2 separate regions of the Homo sapiens genome follow, and region 1 is linked to region 2. A link means that fine-mapping ties the variant in region 2 to the expression of a gene that starts in the linked region. Tissue or cell type: whole blood. Region 2 holds a variant in brackets; the other region holds the start of a gene. All regions are shown on one strand. Distances are between the middles of the regions.

Region 1 (2,656 bases), 43 kb after region 2:
CAATCTTAGGATATATACTTCTAGGCAACCACTTAGTGACAAAAATTCTGTAGAAATCCATCATTGAAAGTTCATTATGTAAATAAATGTGAAGACTAGATAAGAACCACAGAACACAATGACATTGGAAAAAATGCCACAGTAATTCTTTGAAAAAAGAAATGCAGGCCTGGTGCGGTGGCTCATCCCTGTAATCCCAGCACTTTGGGAGGCCGAAGTGGGCAGATCACAAGTCAGGGGTTCGAGACCAGCCTGGCCAACATAGTGAAACCCCGTCTCTACTAAAAACACAAAAACAATTAGCTGGGTGTGGTGGTGGGCACCTGTAGTCGCAGCTACTCGGGAGGCTGAGGCAGGAGAGTGCTTTCAGAGAAACTTCTTGATCACAAGGGGAAATCTGAAAGTTGTCAGAACAAAATGGAGTCACTTATGTTAAGATAACCCTGACAAATAGAGCCAGGAAGGCCATGAAGAGAGGGCTCTTATCCTTGCATGCCTGAAGATGAAAAAGACTCTACAAAACCCACAACCTTACATAAAGGTCTTCACAACCTTAAAAAAATATATATTTCTGCAAGGAATGCTGCCCAGCAACTGCTGGTCCAACCTAGGACTAATGTCACCCTTGTTACTGATCTTTGTAGCCAAGGAAAATTCTGTTAAAACAATATGCAATCCTCCCCATTTCTGTCTTCCTTTATCTCCCTGAATATACACATAGTTTAATACGGCATGTCTATTCCCAATTGCAATGCTCTATTCCCAAATAAACATTGTTTCCGGCTGGGCGCAGTGGCTCACGCCTGTAATCCCAACACTTTGGGAGGCCAAGGCGGGCTGATCTCGAGGTCAAGAGACGGAGACCATCCTGGCCAACATGGTGAAACCCCGTCTCTACTAAAAAATAAAAAATTAGCTGGATGTGGTGGTGCACGCCTGTAGTCCCAGCTACTTGGGAGACTGAGGCACGAGAATCGCTTGAACCTGGGAGGCAGAGGTTGCAGTGAGCCAAGATCATGCCACTGTACTCCAGCCTAGCCACAGAGCGAGACTCCATCTCAAAAAGAAAAAAAAATTGTTTCCCTTAGGAAGCTTTCATATGTTTGTTAGTTAGGTTAACACTTCTAATAATTAAAGTTATACAGTTACAGTGTAAAATTATTAGTATTAACAACATAAACATTGGTATAAAAATTATTATTACAGAAATTAAAACAAATTGAGTGTGAGAGAGATTATTAAGACTGTCCAAGCCAAGTCACTGAAGTCATAAATTTAAGTTATGACAGGATGCCGAGCTTCCAGAGGGTTTTGTTTTTAACAAGGGAGGGGCCCTATTTCCCCTTCTGACACGCTCATATGAACTTCTCACTTTGTCGTACTCCTTCCTTGCTGACTAAGAGGAACAGAACACAGAGCAGCCTGGCGGTGTCCTACCAACAAGCCTCCGTTTCTCCTTCCTGTACACTAGGGCTCCTGAAACTCACCTGGTAAGCGCTCCAGAAAAGCAGCAGGTGGTGACTTTAGGGTAGGACGGGCCAAATGGGAGAATCCCCTTAGGTCGGTTTCTCTGGTTCTCAACTTCTTTTGAAATAACGCTCGCAGAGGAGGTGGGCTTTCTGAGAACTGAGGGAAGTAAGCTCTCAGGACTTCCGGTCGCCATGATGGCTGTGGGCAGTCAATGGGGTCAGTGCAAGCATCTGGGCCATCTTTAATGTGGGCAGGAAAAAAACACGATTACACTTACTTCTGCAGAGTTTATAATATCCTTGTTCATTATTTAAAATAAAATATCTAAGACATAGGTAATAGTATATTTTAAATAAAATTGAAGCAATATATGAAATTTCTCTGGAATTCATCCAGCCACTCTCAGCTGTTACCACTATCCAGAAACGTCTTAATCCGCCTGCATGATTTATGTATTTGGTTTGTATTTTAAATATCATTTTCTGTAATATTTAAAAGTTGTATTTGCTTGGTATCCTGCTATGCATTCTCATGCAATTTGATTTTTAATCAATATTACTTTTTTTTTTTTTTGAGATGAAGTCTCCGTCTGTCACCCAGGCTGGAGTGTAATGGAGCAATCTCGGCTCACTGCAACCTCTGCCTCCCAGGTTCAAGCGATTCTCTTGCCTCAGCCTCCCGAGTAGCTGGAATTATAGGTGCATGCCACCACGCTCGGCTAATTTTTTGTATTTTTAGTAAAGACGGAGTTTCACCATGTTGGTCAGGATGGTCTCCGTCTCTTGACCTCGAGATCAGCCCGCCTCGGCCTCCCAAAGTGCTGGGATTACAGGCGTGAGCCACTGTGCCCGGCCTTGGTTTCTAAATACTATTTTGAAGTATCTGTGGAGAAATGGTTACTTCGAGGGCTGGGGCAGGAATATATAAGATAACATTGGAACAAATTCTGACGCCAGAACATGAAGAAATATTTGAAAAAGGATGGGGCATATTGACTGAACACAGAAGACAAACATGCATGACCTCAGCCTAATCGTGAGAAAACATCAAAGAAATCCAAATTGATAAACATTCTGTAAAATAATTGGCCATGCTCAGCAAAAGTGTCACAATCACAAAAGACAAGGGAAGAATAAGAAACGGTCACAGCCTGGAGGAATCTAAGGACATAACAACTGAGTGCAAT
Region 2 (2,500 bases):
GATAAAGTGTTAAAGTCCTAACATACAAAAAAAAAAAAGACTGTCATCATGTATGCCTTGAGTGTCCTCAGCTGAGAAGCTTTTGTTAGCTTTTCTGCTTTTAGTTATGAGAAGGTGATACTTCAAACGGAGTGTCCATAGGAATTATTTTTCACATTAATCAGGAAAAGTTGCCTTTCCAGGCCCCATCCTTCATAAACACACCTATCCGGATGTCCTTTATCCTGGGTCTTCAAGAATCATGTCAATGGATAAAATAGTGATATATCAAGCAATGGTTGGAAAAAATTTAAAAGGAATATTACTACCTTCTTCAGACATTCTTGAGGAAAATGCATGAGGATACAGTCAATAGGTACATGCCAGGTTACAAGTCTGTCCTGAAAGCCTGTGTGATAGATGTTACCCAGTCTTCTTCTGTCTTGAACACTGAAATCAATGATCACATTTCTGTTTATCCATTTCCAATGAGAACGCTGGATTCTCTCTTCCAGACTACCTAACTGACTCATTTTACAAATTCTGCTGTCTAAGATAGGACACGAGGTAAGGGTCCCTTTCACTAATGCTTCTGAAGAGCACGTCCAGGGCCAGGTCCCCTTTCTTCTCCACCATGCTCAGCAAGGCCTCATTCTTGCTCTGCCGTGTCTTTTCCTGCTCCACCAGCTCCTTCTCATTCTCAGTAAGAACCTCATTGTCTTGGAGATCATCGAGCACCCCTTTCAGGTCCCCCATCCTGGCTTGGAGTTGCCGGTGGTTCTCCTTCACAAAGGCTGCACCTGGATGAAAGGGGGAGTTTCAGACTTTGAGAATCGTTCACTTACAGGATTCAGGATCTATACCAAGCTTAGAGTCAAAATTCAGGGGTGGGAGATTGCTCCTTGTGTCTGTAGCTTAATTTGTGGACATACAAAATCACACACATTCACAGAGCAAATATACCCTTTGCAGTATCAAATGCAT[T/C]GAGGTGTCTCAAATAATGTATCTTCCTCAGTCCTACTCCTCTCATCCATTTCTTGAAGCCTGTTTCTTCCTAGTTGGTGTTTTTCATTGAAATCCTAGACAGAGCTCTATCTTGCTGTACATACATTTATATATAAATCCCTCTAACAACGAAACACAAATCTTCTAGTTCATACATTGTCAGAAACTGTGCATGATGCTAGAGGTATGGAGAAGGATTCAGCTGGATCCCCAAAGCTTAGCTGGCAGAGCTATGAAAGAAGAGATTTAACTGGAGACATACAATGCATAGAAAAGGAAGAACAGGGGAAAAGATACAGACTTTTTTCCATCATGTAGACTCAGGGTTTACGTTGTGCCCCATATAATGTCTGTATAAACTTGGCCAAATCATATTACTTCCATATCACGTGGTTTAGAATGCATGGAGGTTGAGGTGTGATTTTGACTCAAGACATGTTCTGGACCAGCTTCCTGTAGACTGAGCTACTAAGCTTTGATTTCAACGTGCAGGCAACAGGTGCTATATTTTGCTCCACATCCTAAACATTATATTTAGGAAGGGTAGAAGCCTTTTGTTGGTGCTGCTCAGCCTGCAGTCACCACCTACAGAGATGTTCTTTGATTTATTTTAGGACGTCACCTTTATCTGATTCTTAACCAAGCTCCTTAGCTGATCCTCATTGCACCTCCAGATGTGAGGCATGATTTCTTTTTATTTAATCTGCCTCAATGGCCTTCCAGGCAACAACAGCTAGGAAATGGCATGATTGCCATCTCAGAAGGTGCTCTCTTTTTTCTCCCAGTGGTCTGTTTTGAGACATGAGTTCGGAAACTTACACTGTGTGGAGCCTGACAATGAAGCCAACAATATGGAAGGCGGGACGAAGACATGGAGAAACATTCCTCCCTTGTGATGTTGTTTGAGCCCATGAATCAGCCTCCCTGGAGTCAGTCCCACATCTCTTCCTTGAACTCGCCTGAGCCATGACACTCTTGATAATTTCACTCCATTTAAGTTGGACTTTCTGTCATTTGCCACACAAGACTTTACACAGATCCAGAGGACATTGCAGATTGCTGCCTTGGGTGATTTTTAAAATTAACGTGGACATGAAGTCATCAGGAGACAAGGAGTTCCAAACCTGGATTTATTGCTTACTAGATGATGGAAACTTGGTCCTCTCAGTGTTAACTCTATTTTATTTATTTACTTATTTATTTATTTATTTTGAGACAAAGTCTCACTCTTGTCCCCAGGCTGGAGTGCGATGGCACGATCTCGGCTTACTGCAATCTCCGCCCCTGGGTTCAAGCGATTCTCCTGCCTCAGCCCCCCGAGTAGCTGGGATCACAGGCATGTGCCACCACGCCCAGCTAGTTTTTGTATTTTTAGTAGAGGCAGGGTTTCACCATGTTGGCCAGGCTGGTCTCAAACTCCTGACCTCAGGTGATCCACCTGCCTCGGCCTCCCAAAGTGTTGGGATTACAAGTGTGAGCCACTGCACCCAGCCAACTCTTTATATTAAATAATGTA

Evidence for each region. PIP is the estimated chance that this variant, and not a neighbour inherited with it, causes the effect.
Region 1: CARD8 starts here. The variant in region 2 is fine-mapped to the expression of CARD8 in whole blood (INTERVAL, PIP 0.93).

The regions. Positions count from the first base shown.
Region 1 is chr19:48,254,305-48,256,960 of GRCh38, forward strand. It overlaps CARD8 (caspase recruitment domain family member 8), which reads right to left and starts at 1,608. Exons shown (of 14, transcript NM_001184900.3): 1 at 1,488-1,608. CARD8-AS1 (CARD8 antisense RNA 1) reads left to right here and starts at 1,371. Exons shown (of 2, transcript NR_040599.1): 1 at 1,371-1,490; 2 at 2,047-2,656. RefSeq lists an enhancer at 1,477-1,716.
Region 2 is chr19:48,211,197-48,213,696 of GRCh38, forward strand. CARD8 (caspase recruitment domain family member 8) reads right to left here. Exons shown (of 14, transcript NM_001184900.3): 14 at 1-779. The coding sequence ends at 514. Among named protein-coding and RNA genes, the nearest start is that of ZSWIM9, 42 kb to the left of the region's middle. The variant T/C (reference allele first, on the strand shown) is at 964.